7 linked regions of the Homo sapiens genome follow. The protein of the gene in region 3 purifies or fractionates together with the protein of the main gene of each other region. This does not show direct contact. Each region holds a gene or a part of one and is shown on either strand. Other genes may lie near its edges.

Region 1 (3,500 bases), on a different chromosome or scaffold from region 3:
CAGGAAGTACATGACCTGCTCAGTGACTATGAGCTCAAATACTGTTTTGTGGACAAATACAAAGGGACAGGTTTGTGGGGCCATGGGGCGGGCCAGGGCAGGGAGTGACCATCCCTGAAGATGGGAGGGCCTGGCTCACTGTCTGCTGCTCTGAGCTTCAGGCCCAGTATTGCCCCCCAGGCCAACATGGCAGGTTGCCCCAATCTGCCTGTCATCCTGTCATCTTGGGACAGCCTTCATGTTCTCCTTGGAGAACACTGGGCATCGGGCTGATTCTCTTCCTACTCCACTCGCTTGGCATTGAGCTAATTCTTGACAACGTTTGGCCGTGGGTTCATTCTCTTCTTACCCCTCTTGCCTCACTCAGCCAGTCACCCCTGCTTGTGTGGTCTTTTTTTTTTTTTTTTTGAGATGGAGTCTTGCTCTGTCGCCAGGCTGGAGTGCAGTGGCGCGAGCTCGGCTCGCTGCAACCTCCGCCTCCTGGGTTCAGCCCATTCCCCTGCTTCAGCCTCCCGAGTAGCTGGGATTACAGGCATGTGCCACCATGCCCGGCTAATTTTTGTATTTTTAGTAGAGACAGGGTTTCTACCTGGGTGGGTCCAGGTTAACCAGGTGAGGAGGTGGGGCTCAGTGTTCCATGCTCAAGAAACAGCAGCTGCAAAGGCCCCTCTGGAGTGTGCCTGGCGTGGTCCGGGTGGCAGCGGTGAGATGGGAGGGGAGGTCAGCGAGCCCGCACAGGCTGCACTGCACCCTGCAGCTAGAAGCCACAAGATGGATGTGGCGTGATCGTTTTGAACAAAGCTTCCTGCGGCCGCTGGGTGGATCGCAAATCTGGGGCAGCACGTGGCAGCAGGGTTCAGGGGCACTGGTGGCCTGGAAAGGTGGCAGGGGTGGGCAGTGTGTAGAGTGGGCCTCTGGAGTCCGGCTGCCTGGGTTCAAGTCCAGGCTCCCCTACTCGGGGCACAGGGGTGCTGCTCTGGGCCCGTTTCCTCTCTGGCAAAATGGTGATTGTGATGATTAAGTTATATCCATTTGAGAGATGAGGAAACTGATACCCCCAAAGCCACCTGGGGCTTGGGGCTTAAATCTGGGCCCCAGTGAGCATGGGCTTAACCACTGCCCTTGGTATCACCCGAGTGACCCACAGCGTTCTTAGGACAGAGCCAGGCCCACAGTTGGTGAGCGCTGCTGTGGGTGCAGGTGGACGCAGGGCTGGGAGAGGGAGTGGGCTTCGTGGAGCCTAGAGTCAATGGCAGGCGCTCTCGCCTGTGTGAGTCGCCAAGGCTGGCAACTGCTCAGATCAGCAGGCACCTGAGATGCCCAGCATTTGGAGGTCCCACCTGGTTTGCAGGGTGGCGGGGTGGAGGGGCAGGCCCTCAGGGCCCGGCTGACCTCGCACTGCCCTCCTCCCACCGCAGCCTTCGTGACCCTGCTGAATGGGGAGCAGGCCGAGGCCGCAATCAATGCTTTCCACCAGAGCCGCCTGCGGGAGCGTGAACTGTCGGTGCAGCTGCAGCCCACGGATGCCCTGCTGTGTGTGGCCAACCTGCCCCCCAGCCTCACACAGCAGCAGTTCGAGGAGCTGGTGCGGCCCTTCGGCAGCCTGGAGCGCTGCTTCCTGGTCTACAGTGAGCGCACTGGCCAATCCAAGGGCTATGGCTTTGCTGAGTACATGAAGAAGGACTCGGCTGCCCGTGCCAAGTCGGACCTGCTGGGCAAGCCGCTGGGACCACGCACCCTCTACGTGCACTGGACGGATGCCGGGCAACTGACGCCTGCCCTTCTCCACTCCCGCTGCCTCTGTGTGGACCGCCTGCCACCTGGCTTCAACGATGTGGACGCTCTGTGCCGGGCGCTGTCAGCTGTCCACAGCCCCACCTTCTGCCAGGTGAGCCCTGTGGAGAGCATTGGGGAGCAGGTGCCAGGCCCGGAGCACCTGAGAGAGTCTTTGGAGTCATCTGCCTTTTCTTTTTTTTTTTTGAGACAGTCTCACTTTGTCACCCATGCTGGAGTGCAGTGATACAATCTCAGTTCACTGCAACCTCCGCCTCTTTGGTTCAAGCAATTCTCTTGCCTTAACCTCCAGAGTAGCTGGGATTATAGGCGCCCCGCCCCCATGCCTGGATAATTTTTATATTTTTAGTAGAGATGGGGTTTTGCCATGTTGGCCAGGATAGTCTTGAACTCCTGGCCTCAGGTGATCCTCCCAAAGTGCTGGGATTACATGCGTGAGCCACCACACCTGGCCAGGGGATTTGAATCCCTCTGCAGCCTCAGGCCTCACTGTCCCTCTATCAGATGCATGCAAGGCCACTCTTGTAACTATGGATCTCGAGGCTTGCTCACCACTCACCTCCTCATTCGCTGGTACCCTCGTCAAACCTCCCATGGGGTCCCAGACCTGGACCAGGCATTGAGGAGGCTGCAGAGGAGCCCACAGTCTATTTGAGCCTTGAGGTCAGAGACTGAGGCTTTGCCAGATCCCAGCCCCGCCCTCGAGCTCGGGCCAGTCACTGGCTCTCTGATCTGCAGTTTCCCTCCTCCATAAGCAGGGACTCAATACTTGCACAATGGGTTGGCAAAACAGTCCCTTGTTCATTCAAGCCACACATGCCAGGCACTTCTGTGTGTGTGCCTCGCCCTGTAACAGGTGCAGTGGGGCGAGAACAGGCCAGACTCACTCTCTAAGAGCCCCCAGAAGGTCTTGATCCCCAGAGATCCCAAAGGGGACATTCCCCCAGCACTCGCTGTGGACTCTGAGTACGTAACCTTCAGTTGCTTCATCCTGTAGCAACCCTGAGAGGCAGGTATCACTCCCATTTTCAGGTGAGGATACCAAGGCACAGAGGGGTCAAGTAACTTGCCTAGAGTTAAACAGCCAGGGTCTGGCAGAGCTGGGATCAGAACACCGCAGCCTAGCTCCAGAGCTTGGGCCAGTGAGCGGAGGCCAGTGCAGAGGCTTAAAAGGGGTAGGCCTGGCCAGGTGCAGTGACTCACACCTGTAACCCTAACACTTTGGGAGGCTGAGGCGGGCGGATCCCTCGAGCCCAGGAGTTCGAGACCAGCCTGGGCAATATGGTGAAATCCTCTCTATACAAAAATTAGATAGGTATGATGGTGTGCCTGTAGTCCCAGCTACTCAGGAGGCTGAGGTGGGAGGATTGCCTGATTCTGGGAGTCCGAGGCTGCAGTGAGCCATGATCGCACCACAGCACCATGACACTACAGCCTGAGCAACAGAGCTAGACCCTTATCTCAAAAACAGAGAGACAGTCCTGGGCTCGGACCCCCAGCTCTGTGGGCTTGAGTGGGTCCCTCTCGTGTAAGTGGGGTATTGGTGCCCCATTTAAACTAGGTGTCTGTTGGGAGGCAGAGGCAGGAGGATCACTCGAGACCAGGAGTTCAAGACTAGCCTGGGCAAGATAGTGGGACACCATCTCTATATTTAAAACAAGAAACAGGCTGGGTGAGGTGGCTCATGCATGTAATCCCAGCACTTT
Region 2 (3,500 bases), on a different chromosome or scaffold from region 3:
ATCAAACTAAAAAGTCAATAACCATGAAAGTATAACACTGAATAAGGCAAATATTATATTACCTAGTTTTCTCATTGATATAAATATTTATTTATATTTATATGGCACCTTAAGTGTTTCCACATCTATTGTCCATAGAAGAGGAAATTTTTGAGACCTTAGGTTGCTTGCATAATGACATGTAGCTGATTTTAAGACTTTGGTCTTTGCTGTCAAACTGCACAAACTGCACAGGAAGGACAGATTACTTATAAAGAAAGGACGATTCAACAAATAGCTGACTTAATAGCAACAGTGTAAACATGAAGACTGTAGAATACTTTCAAAGTGCTTAGAGAAAATAATTATCAATCTTTATACAAGTTAAACTATCTTTGAAAACATTTAAAACCCAAAATTGAGAGAATTTACTAATAAAAGATCCTCACTTAAAAGAGCTTCTAACATATATGCTTCAGGGGAAAAAAATTAGTGCCAGAGTCTATAAAAGCAGAGGAGTGATGACACAAGAAAATGGTAAATAACATTGTCTAATTTGCAGGACAGAAAAAAAAATAGTACAGAACTAATAATACAGAACTAAAATGCTGAGCAATGATAGTATAATTCAGTAGGAAAGTGACTGTATCCAAAGGTCACTCTACTATTACATAAAAGAATAATTATATTAACTTCAGGCTTCACAGAAATATTAAAATATCCAGAAGAATCCAAGATAGGAGTAAAATAAGTATTTGTAAGACAAAAAAATAAGACACAATATAATGGAAATTAATCCAAATGAACCAATACATGTGAAGAAATTGAACTCTTCAATTTCATGGTGAAAAAAACTATCAAAGTGATTTTTTTAAAAAGTCTAAGCCCAGCAATAACACCCTTTATAAGGGGCATGCCTGAAACAGTAAAAAAATAGGAAAAATGTACCAGGCAAGTACTAAACAAAATAAAGCTGCTGTACTTACATTAAAATGAGACCAAAGACTCAAAGTAACTACTAGAGAAAAAAAATCACCCAATAAAATTTTTAATTCACTAGGAAAATATATCAATTCTAATCTAGATGCACCTACTAAGCTAGCTTAAAAATATTTAAGTAAAAACAAGAAAAAGTAGACAAATCCACTATTCTATTGGGCAATTTTACCAGACACATAAGATAATAAGATAAACAGTGTTACAGCAGAAAAAGTATTGGATCTAAGACAATTTAAATGATTAGCAAACTTGATTTAATGAACACATATAGATCACTGCACTCACCAACTGTACCCAGAATACTTAAGAAAAATGTGCCATATGGTAGGCCATCCATAAGTCCAAATGAATTCCAAAGAATCACACTCACATATAAACCATGTTCTCTGACCACATTAAAATGAAAAAGTACAAAGGAAAAAAAAAAAAACTCATACATTTGGAAATTGAAAACTTCCATTTTCAAATAATACATGGCTCAATAAGAAATCATAATGGTAATTTTTTTTTTTTTTTTTTGAGACAGAGTCTCCCTCTGTCACCCAGGCTGGAGTGCAGGGGCACGATCTCAGCTCACTGCAACCTCTGCCTCCCAGGTTCAAGCAATTCTCCTGCCCTAGTCTCCTGAGTAACTGGGACTACAGGCATGCGCCACCATGCCTGGCTACTTTTTTTTGTATTTTTAGTAGAGACGGGGTTTCACCATGTTGACCAGGCTGATCTCGAACTCCTGACCTCAAGTGATCCACCTGCCTGGGCCTCCCAAAGTGCTGGGATTACAGGTGTTAGCCACCATGCCCGGCCCATAATGGTAATTTTTAAATACTCTAAAAACTGACCCATCATAAAAATGCTCCATAGCAAAACCCATGTACTAACTTTATAGTCATAAATGCTTATATTAGAAAGGAAAAGCTACCAATTTGAAGTAAGCATTCAACTTAAGGAGTTAGGACAAAAACACACTAAACCCCAATAAATAGAAGGAAAAAATAATAAGGCTAAGTGCAGAAATTAGAAATACAAAACATCCAAATTCAGTTATTTGAATACTCTATTAAAACCGACAAATTTCTAACAAAATTAACCAAGAAAAAAATAAAAATTGCATTCAGAATTTTTAAAACAGAAACATAGATGTAGCAAAAACTTAAGAGATAATTTAAGCCAAAATATTTGAAAATGAACAAAAACAGAAAAAATCCTTAGAAAAATAGAAATTACAAAAATTGACTCAAAAAAAAAAGACAGAAAATATAAACCATCAGTAGTTAAAAACTTCCCAGAAACAACAGAGGAAGGCCAGTTTTACACATAATTTCTAGCAAATATAAAGAGAACATATAATTCTGATAAAAAATAGCAAATACTTTCCAACTTAATACACAATAACTAAAAATTAAAATAACCTAAAAAACAGAAAAATGTATAAAATGTGGTATCAGCAGTTAAAATGAAGAAACTAGAGCTACATCTATCAACATAAATGAATCTCAAAAACAATTTAAAAAAAAAAGCAAGTTACATAATACATTATGATATCACTCAAACAAAATTTTAAATCCAACAAAACAATTCCCTATGTTTATGGATGTACAAATGTGTAGTCAAATTATTAAAACCTAAATGATAAATACTCTATCCATAAGTTGTTTCCTCTGGATAAGGCATAAGTTGAAAGATGGGCAAGGGAGATGGGGAAGCTCCATTTTACCATAAAATTTTATTTATTTTAAAGAAAAAAATCTACAACAAATATGGCATATGATAACTATATGAGTAATTTTACTTTTGTCTGTATATTTAAGATTTCTTATAAGAATACTTTAAAAACCAGAGAAGATGCAGTGAAATAGTAAAAACAATAGCTAATATTTATTGAGTGTTTACATTATGCCAAAATGATTCTAAGTGCTTTACATATATTAATTCATGTAATACTCATGTCAACCCCATGACGTAGACAATATTATTCTCCCCACTTTTCAAAGGAGGCACTGAGACACAGAGGCACTGAGACACATAATACAATAAGTATATTACACTGTTATAGTCATTTTGGAAAACAATTTGATAATACTAACCCATGAGAACTGTAAATCTACTTCAGAATATCTGTCTGAAGGAAGTACTCAAAAACATTACAAAGATTTGTGAACAAAAAGGCATGTGTTACTCTGTGGTTACTCAAAAGAAAAGTTAAAACACCTAAAATACAGAACAGTGAAATAGTTATGGAACATCTATATGATAGACTATTATACTACCAATAAAAATATTTGAAAAGAATCTTCAACATGAAAAAATGCTTATACTCTAATGTTAAACAAAAAATAATTCAAAATTATTTTTGTTCCCAACTATGTAAAAAATATACATAGCAGGCTAGAAGAAAATACACAAAAATGTTATAATGAGGTTACCCACAGATGGTGAAATTACAGAGGACTTTTTTTCCTTCAAGTGTATAAATTTACCAAACATTTTAGAATGTATTGCTGATTAGTCAGGAAAAGTTACCA
Region 3 (4,300 bases):
TAGATCCTGTAGGATAGACAGGCATTGATCTCAACTTGGCATTAGGTAAGATCCATTTTTTCAACACTGTAGGCAGATCAATATCAAATAGTGGTGATCATGATCAAATGTTTTTTAGGCGCATGGCATCTCAATCTATGCATCAATGTTAGCGATGTCAATATTCAGCAGAAGAAATGTCTCTCTCAGGAGAGCCGGGCAAGTTAAAGCAGTATTTCCTGTAAGTGTGGTCTTTGACCAACTGCATCGGCATCACCTGGGTGAGAATTTCCTTTTTTTTTGAGACAGAGTTTCACTCTTGTTGCCCAGGCTGGAGTGCAATGGTGCCATCTCGGCTCACCGCAACCTCTGCCTCCTGGGTTCAAGTGATCAAGCAATTCTCCTGCCTCAGCCTCCTGAGTAGCTGGGATTACAGGCATGCATCACCATGCCTGACTAATTCTGTATTTTTAGTAGAGACAGGGTTTCCCCATGTTGGTCAGGCTGGCCTTGAACTCCCGACCTCAGGTGATCTGCCCACTTCGGCCTCCCAAAGTGCTGGGATTACAGGCATGAGCCACTGTGCCCAGCGGAGAATTTCCTTTTTAACAATCTCTCCAGATGACTCTAAGACATACTAATGTTGGAGGCTTAAGAATCACTTCATTAATAGAAGGCTGCACTCTAAGTAAAAGAGAGGTCACTTCTGGCTTCTGAAACCCAAACGTTAGCAGTTTGGCGACTCATTCTAGTCCTGGTGTATCATTACACCATAATAACACTGCCCCATTTACTCTAAAAGTGGCCCACTTAGGTAACTAAGTAATTGATTGTTCAATCTGTGAATTAAGAACCAGTGGCATGGCCAGGTGAGCCACACGCCTGTAATCCCTGCACTGTGGGAGGCCGAGGTGGGTGGATCACCTGAAGTTACGAGTTCGAGACCAGCCTGGCCAAAAGGTGAAACCCCATCTCTATTAAAATACTAAAACTTAGCCAGGTGTGGTGGTGGGCATCTGTAATCCGAGCTACTTGGGAAGCTAAGGCAGGAGAATTGCTTGAATCCGGGAGGTGGAGGTTGCAGTGAGCTGAGGCTGTGCCATTGCACTCCAGCCTGGGTGACAGAGTGAGACTCCGTCTCAAAATAAAACAAAAAACAACAGTCTGGCCAACATAATGAAACCCTGTCTCTACTAAAAATACACAAAAAATTAGCCAGGTGTGGTGGTGTGTGCCTGTAATCCCAGCTACTCAGGAGGCTGAGGCAGGAGAATTGCGTGAACCCGGGAGGTGGAGGTTGCGGTGAGCCAAGATCGTGCCACTGCACTCCAGCCTGGGCGACAGAACGAGACTCTGTCTCAAACAAAACAAAACAAAACAAAACAACACAACAAAAAAAAAAAAAAAAAGAAAGAAAAGAACCAGTGGCAGAACTAAGGCTGCGACACAAAAAATTCTGGATTCAGGATCAGACCTATGTGACATCCTCTCACGACCACTATACAAAGAGCGGGGGTTCTATGCGTTCTGCTGCCACCCAATCCACATAGAAACAGTAAGAGAAGAGATTCGTTTATCCTTGCACGATTTAGTCTTCTTGTATCCATCATCCCCTGAAGTTTTCACAGAATCACAGTGTTCTCAAGGACGTGACGGAGTCAGATCAATTAGAAAAATGTCTCCTCTTCCTTCCTTCCACAGCGATGCGTAACCAGCCTCGTTTGAGTCCAAGTCGTGACTACTGGGAGTATGCTGATGATTGACGCTTTCCAGAGAGTTACCCGAACAGGCAGCCCATCTGCCTGAGAGTTTCCCTGAGAGAACCTCCAAGGTGATGTTTATTAGGGGAAGCCCTAGATTTTTCTTGGAGAATCACCGAGAATCACAGAATATTAACATCAGAAGAGATCTCAGAGCTTTCAGAGCTGAGGGCCGGAATAGTTACCTGACTTGTTCAAGGTAACGTCTAAGGAATAGTCAAAGAAAGACTATAATACAGGTCTTGTCTTCAGCCAGCATAAATGCTCGATCAGAGAAACCTGTGACCTCTCTGTTAAGGTCCGTCTCATTCCACACCATTCAGCTTAAACTTGCACTGAGGTGGGCAGATTTTGATTCTTGGTCTAATCAAAGTCCAAGAGGATGTAATATATATATACACAAAAGACGAAAGCTCCCCTTAACCGGCTTGGGATTGGACTTCTCCCTCCTGCCCCATAAACAAGTGCCGCTCTGATGCCAGCGAAGTCCGGCCAGTCCACCCTCACCTCGGCCTCCGGGCGGCACTGGCATTTCTTGGGCACTTAGCAGGTGAGACGCTGCCACACACGCGATCTCGGGCGTCTCTGGCCTCCGCGGGGTGCTCTTGTACCCCCGTCTCCCCTTACCATCCGTGGGCACAGGCCTGGCCCCCCTCGCATCCGCCAAGGCTATCGACCCCGAAACGACGCGGTGCGCAAGTGGCCACGACACCTAGGCACTAAGTCATTTTCCCGAGGTAGCGGTACCCTCTGCTCCAACGAAGCCAATCTCCAGAAAACCTAACAGACTCAAGGTAAGGAGGCTGGGGAAACCCTTCGCTAGCCTTTCGGTGGCCCTAGGCGGCCGACCAGTCCCGCCTCTCTGGGAGACCCCTCTGCGTCACCGTGACGACCCATTCCCACGCAGGTGTCCCTCTTCTCAAGGCGGCCGCCCACCGTCCCCACGCAGCCTCCTTCCTCACCCGCGGCCGCCGCGCCACAGCCTGCTGCACGCGCTCGTTCACCGCCCGCAATGCGCACCCGACTCCCAGCTCGGCCGACATGCTGCCAGCTCTCCACATCCCCCGGGGACCGACGCCGAGCCCCAGGCCCCCGGCAGCCCGTGGCTCACACCATCTTCCGGTTCCGCCCAGCTTGCGCCGTGTGAACCAATCATTGCTCATCATTGAGTCGTCTCACCCAATCAACACCCGTGCAGCGTGGAGGCCCGCCCCCAGGCGGCGGCCATCTTGGGGAGGTCACCCGCGAACCTGGAAATGGAGCCTAGGGGCTGAGGTTTTGCGCGCCTGGTTCCAAGGGCCACTCCCCGTGTGCTCTCCTCTTTCCTGCGCCTCAGCCGCTGCCGTCCCCCCACCCCCAAGGGACTTTTGTGAGGCAGAAACGCATCCTATACTCGGGGGATCCTGTTTCCTTTCAAAACGCCTTTCCAGGCTTGCCCGTTCCCGGCTTTCTGGGCGCGGGGACCAGAATTAGAAGCCACTGGGGCGGGAGCCAGGGCTTTTCTCTGTCAGATGGTTCTTGCGAGGAACCCCTAAGCGATACGAAAGGAAACTCTTCTTTCTTCTTTTCCCTAAAGACATGGCGTGATTCAAACGTATCGTGATTTTTGTCATCTTTCAGACCACTGCTGTCCAAGAGAAATATAACGCCATCCAACTGTGTAATTTGGAAGTTTCTCATAGGCACATAAGCTTAAAAATTTTAATGATATACTTTATTTAATCCAATATATCCAAAGTAAGATTTCAACATGCAATCAATAGAAAAACTAAATGCGATATTTTAATTCTTTTGAAAATCGTATGTGTTTCTGAAACCCGGTGTAGTGTTGACTTGCATATGTCTCAATTCGGGCCATCCCTATTTCGAGAGGTTAGCGGCCACCTGCGGCCAGTGCTGTCTCATCAGGGGACACAGGCAGCATGATTATTACTATTATTATTATTGAGACAGTCTCGCTCTGTCACCCAGGCTGGAGTGCGGTGGCCCGATCTGGGCTCACTGCAACCTCCACCTCCCGGGTTCAAGCGATTCTCCTGCCTCAGCCTCCCCAGTAGCTGGGACTACAGGTGCGAGCCACCGCGCCCAGCCCACAGGCAGCTTTAGATGGTCTAGCAGGAGCTCAGCACATTCAGTTAGATTCTTTTTTTGAGATGGGGTCTCGCTATGTTGCCCAGATTATCTGGGACTCGTGGGCCCAAGCAATCCTCCCACCTCCGCCTCACAGAATAGCTGGGACTACAAACGGGCACCACAACGCCCTGAGTTTGATTCTTGAGTCCCCTTCTGTGGGCAATATGGTTATAAACTTGATGAGGAGCCAGGCCATACAAATAATAATACAGAATGCTACATAGTCAGGTGGTGAAATAGTAGGTGCTACGGGCAAGGAGAAGGAGATCAATTTTGTTAAGGAAAGCACTCTTGGCTGCAATTTCTGTTGAAAGTTTCTCAAACATTAATTCAACTTAATGAAGTGGGATGCTATTATATTAGAGAAATGGCTAATGTTTGTTCTTCAGGTGGTCTTGTCTTGAGGTGATGGGGTTTATTAGAGCTTT
Region 4 (3,500 bases), on a different chromosome or scaffold from region 3:
GGGTGTGGTGGCTCACACCTGTAATCCCAGCACTTTGGGAGGTCGAGGCAGGCGGATCACAAGATCAGGAGATCGAGACCATCCTGGCTAATACAGTGAAACCCCGTCTCTCCTAAAAATACAAAAAATTAGACGGGAGTGGTGGCAGGCGCCTGTAGTCCCAGCTACTCAGGAGGCTGAGGCAGGAGAATGGCGAGAACCCAGGAGGCGGAGCTTGCAGTGAGCTGAGATCGTGCCACTGCACTCCAGCCTGGGCAACAGAGCGAAGACTCCATCTCAAAAAAAAAAAAAAAAAAAAAAAATACACATTTTTGTGACAATTAATTTTGACTCCACCTTACAAAGTTTCTAAGTATAATATCCCTGATGTGTACTGTTTACCAGAAGTCAATGTTATTTCCAGAAATCAAGACCAATCAAACTGTAAAATTTTTACCTATTTTTCTTTAAGATCAAATACAATGAACACAACCCAGTGTATATTAAGTGGTTGCAAAAGATCCCGTTGTTAAGGTTTATTAGGCCAGAAGGCAGTGGGCACCTGTCCTGCTACTCCAAACAGACTAACACATCCCCAGAACTGGGGATGGGAGCAGCTTCCTGAAGCACTTAAGGAGCTAACATCTGCAGCCTAGCTGTAAGCAGTTCCTAGCCTAGGGATTTCCCACCCAAGGTATGACCACACCATGCTGTGGGCCCTCATAGCCCATATGCTTTGCACATATAACACAGCAAATACTTCATTTTTTTTTAATTATTATTTTTGTTTAGATGGAGTCTCGTTCTGTCACCCAGACTGGAGTGTCAGCTCACTGCAACCTCCGCCTCCCAGGTTCAAGTGATTCTTCTGCCTCAGCCTCCCGAGAAGCTGGGACTACAGGCATGAGCCACCACATCTGGCACCTTTTTTGTATTTTTAGTAGAGACGGGGTTTCACCATGTTGGTCAGGCTGGTCTCGACCTCCTGACCTCAAATGATCAGCCTGCCTTGGCCTCCCAAAGTGCTGGGATTATAGGCATGAGCCACCACGCCCGGCCAGCAAATATTTTATGCTCCATGAGAACTGGGACCGTTTCTGCCTTGTTTATAGTTGTCACCCCAGCCTAGCACAGTCCTCTGCACATAATAAAAAAATCAAACATTTTTTAAAGAAATGATTGAGCTCCTGTGATCAGATTTGATCTTCAGGGTTTTCAAATCAATAAGCATACTTAGGGAGGCCAAGGCGGGAGGACTGCCTGAGCCCAGGAGTTCAAGACCAGCCTGGGCAATATGGTGAGACCCTGTCTCTATAAAAAAATAAAAACAAATCCATAAGCAGGTGCCAGCAGTCTGACCACAACTGATTCCTGGATGCAGAGGTATACAGCTCCCTGTCTTTATCCATGTCTTCCCTGGACCTTCTCAGGCATGCTCAGAGGTGATTCCAGTGGCTAAATCTGTCTGCCAGGAATCCCTGACTGCAGACACACACAGACAGTCCCAGTCATGCCAAATCAGTCTTGTAAGGGGAAAGCTGCCTATGTCTTCTCCGGAGAACAGTAGGAGCGTGGGAGCATGGCACAGCTTGGCCAGATGTGAAAGCACCTCACAGACACCCTGCCTGCCAGTTTATTCCTTCATGACATTCCCAAACTATCCAACCAGATAAAGTGATGGGGCTTCTCTTGGGAGAAACCCTAGGAGTATCTAAGGTAGGAAAGGCAGGGATTATAAAGTCAAGATTCACCAAGAAGCTCTCACTGAATATTTGTACAACATCAGAATTGAGAGGTTATGAGACACTTCTCATAATTTTCTTTCTTCTTTTTTTTTTTTTTTTTTTGAGACAGAGTCTCGCTCTATCATCCAGCCTGGAGTACGGTAACACAATCATAGCATCACAGCTCACTGTTTTGGGATCAATCTTTTGGGCTCAATGAGCCTCCTGAGTAGCTGTGACTACAGGTGTGTGCATGCCACCAAAGCAGGCTAAAAAAAATTTTTTTTTAAGATGAGGTTTAATTTTGTTGCCCAGGCTGACTTTTCATAATTTTTTCTTTTTTTTCTTTGCCACTGCAAGAACCCACAGATTTTTCATAATTTTCTTTTTTTTTTTTTTGAGACAGAGTTTCGCTCTGTTGCCCAGGCTGGAGTGCAGTGGCATGATCCTGGCTCATGCAACCTCCGCCTCCCCGGTTCAAGCAATTCTCCTGCCTCAGCCTCCCGAGTAGCTGGGACTTCAGGTGCATGCTACCACGTCCAGCTAATTTTTGTATTTTTAGTAGAGACGGGATTTCACCATATTGGTCAGGCTGGTCTTGAACTCCTGACTTCGTGATTCACCTGCCTCAGCCTCCCAAAGTGCTGGGATTACAGGCATGAGCCACTGTGCCCAGCCAGATTTTTCACAATTTTCTAACTATCACCTCTCTCACCCCTGAGCAATAATGAATGGGCATTTTTTTTTTTTTTTGAGACGGAGTTTCGCTCTCGTTGCCTAGGCTGGAGTGCAATGGCGTGATCTCGGCTCACCGCAACCTCTGCCTTCCAGGTTCAAGTGATTCTCCGGCCTCAGCCTCCCAAGTAGCTGGGATTACAGGCATGCGCCACCACACCCAGCTAATTTTGTATTTTTAGTAGAGACGGGGTTTCTCCATGTTGGTCAGGCTGGTCTCGAACTCCCGACCTCAGGTGATCCACCCGCCTCAGCCTCCCAAAGTGCTGAGATTACAGGTGTGAGCCACTACATCGGCCTTTTATTTATTTATTTATTTTTAATGCTTGCTTTTGCAGCTGGAACACATAGGCTCTAAGGAATGTACCTTGGGCAACCCTTTAATTGCTAAGCCTACTCTCCCCTGTCTTCCTGGGTCAAGTACTCAAGGACTCCTGAGTTCGGCCATTGGACAAATCACACTCTCTTCAACAGCACCCATTAACCAATTTATGCAGATGCCGTCTGGATAATGGGGTTCCAAACTGGGAAGTCAGACACCTGAACTGTTTCAACCCAGGATATATTTTTATGGAGTTGAATTATTGATGTGCCTCAAGGCAATGAGGAAAGAAATGACACCCTTTTCATGATCACCTACTAGTGGAAATCACTTAGCGTTATGGGGATCTCGCCCAGAGAAAATCCACTGGCATTTGCTCACCATTCTGACAAGCCTGGAGGAAAGGAAGTCTAATCTTTCTTTAGAAGCCAAGTTCTGACCTTCCTGGACCCATCTTCCCTTTCTAAACAAACAGAGCACTATGCAATCCTTCACCCTGCTCCAAGCTCCTAATGGCTAAACCGAGTGGAAGAAGCTGGCGAGATGAGATGCGTGTTTAAAGTTACTTAGAGGTCAAAGAACCCAGCCTCTAGCTGCAGAACTGGCAGATGTCTGGGATTCTGATGAATGGAATCCTTCACAAGCACACATATGCCTCCCTTTCCTCCTACAGGCACTAGAAGAGTGAAAGGAATATATGTGTTTTGTGCTTAGCTCAGCCTAATGCCAGTACACCCTCT
Region 5 (3,500 bases), on a different chromosome or scaffold from region 3:
ACCATCTATTGGGTACACTGTACACTATTCGGGTGACGGGTGCACTAAAAGCCCAGACTTCACCACTATACAATTCATCCATGCGAACAACACCTCGGGTAACCCTAAAGCTACTGATTTTTTTTTTAACAAAATAAATAAAATCTTAAAAAAAAAAAAAAGACAGCTATAACTGAGGCACAGAAAACACATACAGGGAGTGGTTGCTGCCCAGTCCCATGGGCACAGGGAGCCACTGAAGGCTTCTGGAGCAGAGGAAGGACAAAGGGGTTGCGTATGCCAGAAATGGCCAGCAGGGTCAGATACCTTGGCGAGGTGCTGATACTTGCGCTCTGGAATCACTGGCTTCCAAGGGACGCTGCCCATGTCCGATGGAGGAGGAGTCATGGGCGCAGGGTCCTCGAGGGTATCATCATAGCTGACTGCCCGGCGGTATATCCCGATGGGCAGGGACATCTTGCCTAGAGGCGCACTAGCCTCAAGAGCTAAGAACAGAGACACCTGTCAAGACAGGTTCAGCAACTGGACATACTAGCAGCTTTAAATTAATCTACAGGAAGGAAAGCTCTGAAATACTCTTGTTCTTGAACAGAGCAAAATAGCTTGTTTTGGAGTAGCTAATCCCATCCAGGAAAGGCAGTGGTACCAATCCCTTCCTCTATGCCTGACACCTTGGGTGGTCCACTTAACCCACTCAGCCGTCCTAATCCTTTTTTTTTATTATTTGTTTAGAGACACAGTCTATGTTGCCCAGGCTGGAGTGCAGCGGCACGATCACGGCTCACTGCAGGCTCAACCTCCTGGGCTCAAGTGCCTCAGCCTAGCGAGTAGTTGGGATTCTAGGCATGTGCCACCATGTCCAGCTAATTTTCATGGATCAGGAAACCTGAAGTTCCATTTAAAGGTACTTGACCACAACTTCAAAGTACAGTTTGGAATCCAATCCCAACCAAACCTATCTGATTTCAAAGCTGTGTCCTTTATCCCACAGAAGCCACCCCCTACTGCAATACTAAGGCTCTCAGTTCGTGCAAGACTGAGGATATGAAATGACCGAGGATACGAAGTTCTCATTCCCATTTCATAGATGAGGAAACTAAGGCCTAGGGGTAAAGTGACCTTCCCAAGTTCATTCAGAAAATGGCTACCTGGGGCTCAGCCAAGGTCTGTGAATCCTCTACCTTCCTTTCCTCACCAAAGAAAACACCAGCACTAACAGAAATGTTTGTGGCATCACTGTTCTGTATGATTTATTTAAACAGTAGAGTCACTTTCCATCACAGAAATTATTGACAACCACTCTCACAAATCACCAGCTGATCCTGCCATTCCTGTCCACTGGAACTGACGCCCAGCATGTCGGGTTGTGATGCAGCCACCCCATTCAAGGGCACTCTCAGCTGTGCCAGACCAGGGAGCCAAGTTCATTGTGTTTCGTTTGCTAATCCTTGCATATCAGAACTAATGTCCAGAACCTACCTGAAAGGTAACATTTTCCTGTGGCTAAAATCATATAATAACACTCTCTAAGACATCAACCTGCCTGGCAATAAGTCCAAAACCACAAAAGGTTTCATTTAAACGGCAAGGGGACCAAGCAGCTATCATTATTATTACTATTGCTATTAGTAATAATTAACAAAACCATAGAAATAAAAAGAGGATTAGAGGTTGCCAGGGAGTGGGTGGGGGGAGTGAGGATACGACTGCTAATGGTACGAGGTTTTCCTTTGGAGGTTATGAAAACGTACTGCAGTTTGGATGGGTGTGGTGGCTCACACCTGTAATCCCAGCACTTTGGGAGGCTGATGTGGGTGGATCACCTGAGGTCAGGCGTTCCGGCCTAGCCAACATGGTGAAATCCCATCTCTACTCAAAATACAAAAATTAGCCAGGCGTGGTGGTACGTGCCTGTAGTCCCAGCTACTTGGGAGACTGAGGCAGGAGAATTGCTTGAACCCAGGAGGCGGAGGTTGCAGAGAGCCAAGATCGTGCCACTGCATTCCAACCTAGGCAACAGAGCGAGATTCCATCTCAAAAAAAAAAAGAAAAGAAAAGAAAATGTGCTGCAATTGATCGTAGTGTTGTTTGCACAACCCTGTGAATATACTAAAAATCACGACATTGTTCACTTTCAGTGGGTGAATTTTATGATATGTGCATTACATCTCAAACACACACACAAGCAAATAATAATTACTAAGTCTTCCTCCTTGCTAGACAATTACATCCCTCATCTTATCTAATCCTCATGAAGCAGATATTCTTCCCATTTTCAAATTTTCCATTTTCACAATCAACTTGCCCAATATCACCTAGCTTGAAAGAGTGTGCTGGGAACTGGAACACAGACCTGAGCCGGTGCACACACTCTGCATGCAACACACTACAAAGCATTCACTGAATGGGCACAATCCTATGGCTCGCGACGGCTACACGGAGTTTGTGGTAATCACAGCAACAATGAAAGACAAACTAAAACGGAGCTGATGATGTTAAGACTAGAGATGGATCTATATTGGGGAATACGGGAGACTTGGGGAGCAATTTCAAAAACATCTTAAAGACTCCCACTGAACAGCCATCCTAAAACAAATAAAGTCAGCTAGTATTTACTGGAAAATATGTTCATATAAAGACAGACCAAATGCATTCTGGGCAGTAAATACATATTTATCACTGATTTTTAACTCCTGTTTTTACATATTTTGTTTAATCTTCACAACCCCGAGAGATAGGAACCATCATCTTTCTTCATCATCATACTTTACCGAGAATCAGAAATTAAGCGATTCAGATGTAATTAAAAATCACTTTCCTTTCTCATAAAACAATTCAAGTAGTCATCAATGGTGTCAATAACCCAGAACTTGACTCATTAAGGGTTGCTGTGAGCATTTTCATGATTAAGTTCAATCTGCCATTTAAGCAGGCTGGTGCCTTTTTACCAAGACTTCCATCCCACCTCCCCATCACCCCCAAAAAGGTGAGTTTAATCACTTTGGTACATACTACAAGAACTGCACAACTTATTCTGAATTATTATTTGATAACTAGGAAAGTAACAAACTTGTCATAATACCCTTAAATGAAGTGACTATTCTCTTTAAGTTAAAGTTTCATACTATGGCTGAGCGGCTAATAAAATATTTAAATGATGCCAATCTAAGGCTAGGCGTGGTGGCTCACACCTGTAATCCCAGCACTTTGGGAGGCCAAGGTGGAAGGATCACCTGAGGTCAGGAGTTTGAGACCAGCCTGGCCAACATGGAGAAACCCTGTCTCTATTAAAAATACAAAAATTAGCCGGGCGTGGTGGCAGGCAGCTGTAATCCCAGCTACTCGAGGCTGAGGCAGGAGAATCACTTGAGCCCAGGAGGCGGAGGTTGCAGTGAGCTGAGATCACACCACTGTATTCTAGCCTGGGCAGCAGAGTGAGACTCAAAAATAAAATAAAACTGGCTGGGCGTGGTGGCTCACACCTGTAATCCCAACACTTT
Region 6 (4,277 bases), 7.0 Mb from region 3:
TTTTCTTTCACAACCACAAAATTCCTTAAGGGAAGGGACATGTCTCACAAATGTTTATATCTATCGTTTTCTCCCTACCCACCCCCAATCCCAGCACTTAAAATACAAAAAATGGGACAGGAGTGGTGGCTGATGCCTGTAATCCCAGCATTTTGGGAGGCCAAGGCAGGCCGACTGCTTAAGCACAGGCATAAGAGACCAGTTTGGGCAACATGGCAAAACCCTGTTTCTAAAAAACAATAAATAAAATAAAAACAGGCCAGGCGTGGTGGCTCACGCCTGTAATCCCAGCACTTTGGGAGGCTGAGGTGAGCGGATCACAAGGTCAGGAGTTCAAGACCAGCCTGGCTCTACTAAAAATACAAAAGTTAGCTGGGTGTAGTGGCACCTGTAATCTCAGCAATTTGGGAGGCCGAGGCAGGAGAGTTGCTTGAACCCAGGAGGCGGAGGTTGCAGTGAGCCGAGATTGCACCACTGCACTCCAGCCTGGGTGACAGAGCAAGACTCCATATCGAAAAAAAAATAGATAAATACATTTTAAAAATAAAAAATTAGCTGGGTGTGGTGGCTCATGCTTGTAATCCAAGCACTTTGGGAGGCCAAGGTGGGTGGATTACCAGAGGTCAGGAGTTTGAGACCAGCCTGGCCAACATGGCAAAACCCCATCTCTATTAAAAGTACAAAAACTAGCCGGGCATGGTGGCATGCACCTGCATTCCCAGCTACTCGAGAGGCTGAGACGGGAGAACTGCTTGAACCTGGGAGGCAGAGGTTGCAGTGAGCCCAGATTGCACCACTGTACTCCAGCCTGGGTGACAGAGTGAGACTCCCTCTCAAAAAAAAAAAAAAAAAAAGAATTCATAACAGGAAGGTAAAGTGGGTGAACCTCTGAAGCACATTATAACATAAGTAGAGAAAGAGGAAGACAGAGAAAATGTGGAGAGCAGAACAGAAGTGAGAAGTGATCAAGTACTCTCATGAGGTGTGGGAGGGGGGCACTTAGTGGCACCCCACAATCTGCCTTCTGGAGAGACAGATTTCTAACCTTCTGTCTGGACTATGGTGTCAAAGTGCAAGTTGATAATTAACAGAGATTTTTCCTTTCTCTTCATCTCCATGTTCATCTCCAAGGCACTGAACAATGAAGTCAACCTTTTCATAACTGTCCATTTTTAGTTTCATTCATTGCACAAGTGCTTATTGAGCAAGGGATTTTAAGGTGATAAGAGACACACAAACACAGAAGCCCATCCCTGTCCTTAAAGAGCTCCCAATTTGACATAATTTAAATATTCATCTCCAAAGGAATTTAGAGAACCTATCCCAAATCCCAGGTTCCTCTTGGATACAGCATTTTAATCGTCAACACCCAAATCTTGTGATAGAAAAGGGCGGGCACACCAATAACTTGGAAACAACATTTATTTTTAGAATGAGTGCAGTGGCTCAGGCTTGTAATCCCAGCACTTTGGGAGGCTGAGGCGGGAAGATCGGTTGAGTCCAAGAGGTTGAAATCAGCAAGGGCAACATAGCGAGACCCCCATCTCTACAAAAAATAATAATAATTAACTAGGCGTGGTGATTAGCCCCCTGTAGTTCCAGCTACTCAGGAGGCCAAGGTGAGAGGATCCCTTGAGCCCGGGAGTTCGAGGCTGCAGTGAGCTATGATGGCCACTGCACTCTAGCCTAGGTGACAGGGCAAGACCCTGTCTCAAAAAACAAACACAAACAAAAACCCTTATTTTCAAAAATTATGAATTTTGTAAATCTCAGGATTTACATCCCTCTGTTTTTAGTTTTGCAATCCACATAAAACCAAGACAAAACAAAAGCTCTGAGAACTCACCTACTCAAGGTCGCCTTGGCTGCAATTCAGATCACCCGAAAATCCCAAAGCCCAGGCTGCACTTCAGACCAATTAAGTCGGGAAACATCCCAAAGCCCAAGTGCACCTCAGACCAATTAAGTCGGGAATCCAGGCACCCTCAGGTGATTCGAATGTGTAGCCAAGGTTGACAACAACCGCTATAAATCATTCTGCCCTTGAAACGGGAGAACCAGGATCTACATTTTTCAAGAACCAGGATCTATGGCACCGTCACCCTCGTCCCTACACACAGGCCACCAGCAATGTTCCCAGATGCAGTTTTGTGTTTCACGCGGTCAAGAACAGAATCCAATCCTCTCCCACTTGGACAAGTGAGGATGGAGGAAGGTTAATCTAACCCGCCCCGGCCCTGGTCAATATCGCATCCGTGCGGAAGCAGACGCTGGCTCGGCTTTGCGGGCCGCAGAGAAGCCCCCGGACGCCTCTCTCTCCTCCACCTGCTGGGTTCCTGGCTTCGGAATGGGGAGTTGCGGGGGTGGAAAAGAGGAAAGCCCAGCGCCGGGGGACAGGATCGCCATAGGAACGAGCACAGGCTGTCCCCCGAAAGACCGAGACAAAGAGGCGCCCCCCGCCCGAACAAACCGGCGGTACTCACGCAAGTGCCACCCAGCTTGTGGCTCTCCACCACGGCGGCCCTGGCACCCAGCTCGGCCGCCCTGCGCGCGCTGGCCAGCCCGCCCGAGCCGCCCCCGATCACCAGGTAGTCATAGGAGGCCACGGCGCCAGCAGCGGGCGGCGGGCCCTGCGGCTGCGGCTCCTGCCTGCAGGCCATGGCACGGGAGAGGGCGCGCGTGAGGGCCGCGGGCTCGGGCAGAAGCAGCAGGAAGCCTCGGAAGGCGCGCGCCGCCCGCCGCCAGCTCGGTCCCGCGCCGGCGCTCAGGGCTCGGGGCAGCAGGGCCATGCACGCGGAAGTGGCGCGCCAAGTGGGGCGGGCGGCCCGGGGGCGGTCCCCGGGGTAGGGGGGCGCGGGCCCCGGGCAAGCGCAGCCTCACGGTGACTAAGCATGCGCCCGCCGCTAGGCAAGACCCAGGAGGATGCCCAGAGGCGGGGCCGCCTCCCAGTTCCCCGCCCCGGTGGCGGAGCCTGAGGGGTTTCTCCGCCTCCGTTCTCACCCCGGCCCCTGGATCCCGAGCGGCGCCTGCCGCGTGTAGCCTTCTGAAGTCCGGTGGATCGAGGCGAGGAACGGTGAACGTCCTCTCGTTTCAGCTGGCTTTTCCCGAGCTGGCCCCCTGGGGAGTTGCCAGTGGCACGGCTTCTCCAGGAAGAGAAATTTGCCTCTATTCGAAGGGTTGTTTGTCCAGGTTTGTTCCAGAGACCACTTTTGTTTGTTCTTGCTTTTTCTTTGAGACTGGGTCTCACTCTCCCCCAGGCAGGGGTGCAGTGATGCGATCTCTGCTCACTGCAGCCTCCACCTACTGTGCTCAAGCAGCGATCCTCCCTCCTCAGCCTTCCCGGTAGCTGGGAACTACAGGTGCCCGCCACAGCGCCCAGCTAATTTATTTATTTATTTATTTAATTTTTTTTTTTATTTTTTTTATTATTTTTATTTTTTTTTTAGAAATAGGGTCTCACTATGTTACCAGGACTGGTAGGGAACTCTTGGCCTCAAGCGATTCTCTCACCTCGGCCTCCCAAAATGCTAGGATTATGGTATGAGGTCACCACTTCTCCTGTTGTCCTTCTCAGTTTCTCCCCAACCTCCCCTTTTCCCTAGTTTATAAGACAGGAGAAAAGGGAGAAAGCAAAAAGTTGGAAAGAAACAGAAGTAAGATAAATAGCTAGACGACCTTGGCACCACCACCTGGCCCTGGTGGCTAAGATAATAATAATATTATTAACCCCTGACCAAAACTATTGGTGTTATCTGTAAATTCCAGACATTGTATGAGAAAGCACTGTAAAACTTTTTGTTCTGTTAGCTGATGTATATAGCCCCCAGTCACGTTTCCCACGCTTACTTGATCTATTATGATTTTTTCACGTAGACCCCTTAGAGTTGTAAGCCCTTAAAAGGGCTAGGAATTTCTTTTTCGGAGAGCTCGGCTCTCAAGACGCGAGTCTGCCAACGCTCCTGGCCGAATAAAAAACCTCTTCCTGCTTTAATCTGGTGTCTGAGGAGTTTTGTCTGTGACTCATCCTGCTATATTTCTTGGTTCCCTGACTGGGAAGCGAGGTAATTGACGGACAGTCGAGGCAGCCCCTTAGGGGGCTTAGGCCTGCCCTGTGGAGCATCCCTGCGGGGAACTCCCGCCAGCTTGAGCGACGCGGATCCTGCGAGCGCTCCTGGGTAGGCAATTGCCCCGGTGGAACGCCTAGTCAGAGCAGTGCGTGGCAGGCCCCCGTGGAGTATCAACGCAGTGGCTGAACACCGGGAAGGAACAGGCACTTG
Region 7 (3,479 bases), on a different chromosome or scaffold from region 3:
TCAGCACTTTGGGAGGCCGAGGTGGGTGAATCACCCGAGGTCAGTAGTTCGAGACCAGCCTGACCAACACGGTCAAACCCTGTCTCTACTAAAAATACAAAAATTAGCCGGGCGTGGTGGTGCACGTCTGTAATCTCAGCTACTTGGGAGGCCGAGGCAGGAGAACCGCTTGAACCTGGGAAGTGGAGGATGCAGTGAGCTGAGATCGTGCCACTGTACTCCAACCTGGGCAACAGGAGTGAAACTGTCTCAAAAAACCACACACACACACACACACACACACACACCAACGAACCCCCCCCCCCACCAAAAAACAGTGATTAACTGGTCTCTTAGTACTAACGTGGGATCCCATTTCAATTCATCTCCTCTTGCCAGGCCAGTAAAGCTCTTGAAATAGTTTTAACTTCATCAACTGATTACTCATGGGGAGAAGGGATTATTTTGGGTCTTGTCTTGCTAGTAAGGGACAGAGTGAGTGGAATAGAACCAATCCAGTATTCTTGTCACTTTTAAGTCTTTACATTATATATTAAAGATTACACATAATAATCCTTTACACTATATACAATAATCCTTTACATTACTGTAGTAGCATTCTGGCTTTTTGATGACATTTGGCATAAGCTAGCATTAAGTCCAATCCTACAAGAGCCAATCAAAATCCACTGAGATGGCATGCTGAAGGAATATTGGAGGCGTGTCCACTGCTAATAAATCCAGCCTAATCCATCCTCAAAATTTCCATATAATTTACAGAAATTTTGATAATGCAAACCAAATCTTTTTATTTCTTCTCGGTGAAACTTCTAATTCTCAATTTCTCCTCCTGGGCCTTGCAGAATTGGAATCCTAGTCAATGGTGTAAGAGGGCTAAGAGCTATTAGTTTTATCTTAAGGCATATATTCCTTATGTAGGGGCAACAATGTAAACATTGCAGACCTTGAGCATTCTCTAACATGTAGTTAGATTTCCATAAGGAAATGTGCAAGCTAGATCCCTCTCAAGCGCACTTCACAATAGGATTCCTGCTATGAAAATCTGCTGTTGCTGATCTGACAGGCGGCGGAGCTCAGGCAATCCATGGCCAGGAGATCGGAAACCCCTGCTCCCAGGTCTACAAATCTTTTGACACAGCCTTATTTCCACTTGCTGGGACCCTGTTGATTTCCTGAGAAGTTTCACAAAAGCCTAGTATAAAACTATTTAACTTAGCAATCTTCCAAATGAACTTTACATTTGGTTTTAGTAGTCTCAGCCCTACAGCTATAAGAAATGGATTGTTTGTATTGGCATATAAAAGCCTCCAAGTCCCTTTGCCTTGAGGCAGTAACTTTAAGACTCAAATTTATCCTTTCCCATGGCTTTTGTCTGATTCAGCTGCCCATGGCAGCAGTTACCTAGGGGTTACCTACGGGTAACTGCTGCCTCCCTTTCATGAAACTGGCGACTAGCATTACAGCACATCAAAAGACTACCACTTTGTCTCACTACTTCTCAGTCTATCTCAACTTGGTAAAATTCCAAATTTTCCTCAGTCTTTTGCCTGTTAACACTCTTTGTAGCCATGTCAAATGGCTAAAATTCTTTCAAATCTAAAAGCCAGAAAACAACTCAAACTAGCCTAAAAAAGGAAACTTTCAATCAGCAGGATAAAGGATGGCTACACAACTAAAGGGCTAAAACTCAGGCTTTAGGATAGAAACCGAGGGTTATGTTCGAGATTATCAGGAGTGTGAACTCGCAAGCCATCAGTTAACTGATGGGGAGAGGTTTGGTTGGGGAGAAAATGGTGGAGAATGTAGTTACTTCAGGAAAGGATGCCTGTATATACTACCACGATAAAACCAGGTTTCTCAGCCTTTAATGTATCCATCCATAACACAACCCCCTCTGGGACCACACCCTAAAACTCAACTTTATATATAAATACTACAAATTCTTGTTTCAAAACTCATTGAGAACAATTTGAAATAACCCATCAGGCATATACTAAGTTGTTTCCACATGCTTATCAGAAACAAACCTAAGGGTAGTTCTCTAAGCATATTAATTTACCACAAGTTGGCAAACACTGAAAACACCCTGGACAGTAAGTTTTACAAATTAAGACCTGCCAATACTGCCTATGCTCCATTACTGGTATTTTCCATCACCCAGGTACCCAGATTTGAGACATCATGATCAAGAGAACTGTGGACTAAGATCACCTAGGTTCAATTCAGATCGTGGCATTGCCACTTAAACAGCTATTTGAACTAAGGTAAGTTACTCTACATCATTTCATTGCTAAAGATTATATGTAAAGTTCTTCCCAAAGTACCTGAAACATACTAATACCTAGATGCGATAAAGGTTAGCAAGGCAACAAAATAACCCACCTGTAGCAACATCCCTACAATTGGTCATGAAAATTACTTAAATGCAAAATAATAAGAACATGTATTAAAGTACCCGCAGTCTAGTTATTTACTGTAACTCCATCCCCAAATGGAGATCACTCTAATACCTAGTTATGCACTCTGAATTTTCCAGGAATACAGAAATTCATCCCCCCCTCAACCCAGCCCAAAATAGCAAAGATACACCTCAGCCCAAGGAACACACTGCCCTAACGATTAAACTACAGAAGAACTCTAATTATAATAGAACAAGAACACTTCTTTGTGAACAGCTGCACCAACATTTTTCTTTTCATTTGCGTTTATTTAAACACAGTTCTCAAAACATTTGAGTGAAATTGGGCCTCCTTTGGTAAGCAAAGGACCTGAAAATAATATTTAAAAAATGAACAGGCAAAGTCTTCAGTTCATCCATGACAGGTATAGTGTTCCCTTATCATGTACTTTGAAGCACCCGGTTTTTTCATATAGTCTAAAAGCTAGAAGAACAAGAGTGTATTTGTGGTGGAATGTATTGTCACTTGCTGATAACTAGTTGAAATACCATTATCCCCTTGTAACACCTTTAAGAAACAGCCTTTTAAGGCATACACTGTGTAACTCTTCGTATTTCCTGCTATACATATTACAGATTACATAAAAGCCGACAAATCCACATTGATATAAGCATTAAGCACTGGCTGTATTTTAAGATTTTTAGTTCTAATACTAGCAGTACAGAGTTACAGAGCATAATTTTAAACACTTAGTTGCAGGTATATAAGTATGGTATGTTTCATGGACTGGAGGAAAACGGGCATTTGTCTTTAAATTTACTACTGACAATCTGAATAGTTCTGCTAAGCATTGATATGTTAGAAAGAAAAGTAAAAATCAAACTGTTTATTGTTGCTTTTTGCCATTTGGTAGCATTTTACACAGGCTTCGATCTTCAGAATACCCTGGATTCAGTAGAAAAACCTTTTAAATGAAGTTTTGTACAATAGAAACTTCTCAGCAGTCAAAATTTAGACTGTAAAAAAATACATGCAAAACATACTTTTCTGAAAACACTTAACTTGGAACAAAGCACCAAA

Evidence for each region.
Region 1: the proteins of PLPBP (region 3) and RAVER1 fractionate together in Homo sapiens (co-fractionation; one large-scale study listed by BioGRID). This does not show direct contact.
Region 2: the proteins of PLPBP (region 3) and MYEF2 fractionate together in Homo sapiens (co-fractionation; one large-scale study listed by BioGRID). This does not show direct contact.
Region 4: the proteins of PLPBP (region 3) and HK1 fractionate together in Homo sapiens (co-fractionation; one large-scale study listed by BioGRID). This does not show direct contact.
Region 5: the proteins of PLPBP (region 3) and KIAA1191 purify together in Homo sapiens (co-immunoprecipitation; one large-scale study listed by IntAct). This does not show direct contact.
Region 6: the proteins of PLPBP (region 3) and GSR fractionate together in Homo sapiens (co-fractionation; one large-scale study listed by BioGRID). This does not show direct contact.
Region 7: the proteins of PLPBP (region 3) and TRA2B purify together in Homo sapiens (affinity purification with mass spectrometry, with the first as the bait; one large-scale study listed by BioGRID). This does not show direct contact.

What each region holds. Positions count from the first base shown.
Region 1 is NC_000019.10:10,327,030-10,330,529, reverse strand, and holds part of RAVER1 (ribonucleoprotein PTB-binding 1), read left to right. Parts: intron 1-3; coding exon 4-70; intron 71-1,418; coding exon 1,419-1,888; intron 1,889-3,500. UniProt on the Homo sapiens protein: Cooperates with PTBP1 to modulate regulated alternative splicing events. Promotes exon skipping. Cooperates with PTBP1 to modulate switching between mutually exclusive exons during maturation of the TPM1 pre-mRNA.
Region 2 is NC_000015.10:48,154,296-48,157,795, forward strand, and holds part of MYEF2 (myelin expression factor 2), read right to left. Parts: coding exon of another isoform or gene 3,485-3,500; exon of another isoform or gene 2,832-3,484; intron 1-2,831. UniProt on the Homo sapiens protein: Transcriptional repressor of the myelin basic protein gene (MBP). Binds to the proximal MB1 element 5'-TTGTCC-3' of the MBP promoter. Its binding to MB1 and function are inhibited by PURA.
Region 3 is NC_000008.11:37,761,160-37,765,459, reverse strand, and holds the start of PLPBP (pyridoxal phosphate homeostasis protein), read right to left. Parts: upstream 2,801-4,300; coding exon 2,702-2,800; exon of another isoform or gene 2,647-2,701; intron 2,534-2,646; exon of another isoform or gene 2,196-2,533; intron 1-2,195. UniProt on the Homo sapiens protein: Pyridoxal 5'-phosphate (PLP)-binding protein, which may be involved in intracellular homeostatic regulation of pyridoxal 5'-phosphate (PLP), the active form of vitamin B6.
Region 4 is NC_000010.11:69,321,847-69,325,346, reverse strand, and holds part of HK1 (hexokinase-1), read right to left. Parts: intron 1-3,500. UniProt on the Homo sapiens protein: Catalyzes the phosphorylation of various hexoses, such as D-glucose, D-glucosamine, D-fructose, D-mannose and 2-deoxy-D-glucose, to hexose 6-phosphate (D-glucose 6-phosphate, D-glucosamine 6-phosphate, D-fructose 6-phosphate, D-mannose 6-phosphate and 2-deoxy-D-glucose 6-phosphate, respectively).
Region 5 is NC_000005.10:176,355,265-176,358,764, forward strand, and holds part of KIAA1191 (putative monooxygenase p33MONOX), read right to left. Parts: intron 486-3,500; coding exon 307-485; intron 157-306; exon of another isoform or gene 1-156. UniProt on the Homo sapiens protein: Potential NADPH-dependent oxidoreductase. May be involved in the regulation of neuronal survival, differentiation and axonal outgrowth.
Region 6 is NC_000008.11:30,725,047-30,729,323, forward strand, and holds the start of GSR (glutathione reductase, mitochondrial isoform 1 precursor), read right to left. Parts: upstream 2,801-4,277; 5' UTR 2,790-2,800; coding exon 2,484-2,789; intron 1,976-2,483; exon of another isoform or gene 1,847-1,975; intron 1-1,846. UniProt on the Homo sapiens protein: Catalyzes the reduction of glutathione disulfide (GSSG) to reduced glutathione (GSH). Constitutes the major mechanism to maintain a high GSH:GSSG ratio in the cytosol.
Region 7 is NC_000003.12:185,914,058-185,917,536, forward strand, and holds the end of TRA2B (transformer-2 protein homolog beta), read right to left. Parts: 3' UTR 501-3,479; downstream 1-500. UniProt on the Homo sapiens protein: Sequence-specific RNA-binding protein which participates in the control of pre-mRNA splicing. Can either activate or suppress exon inclusion. Acts additively with RBMX to promote exon 7 inclusion of the survival motor neuron SMN2.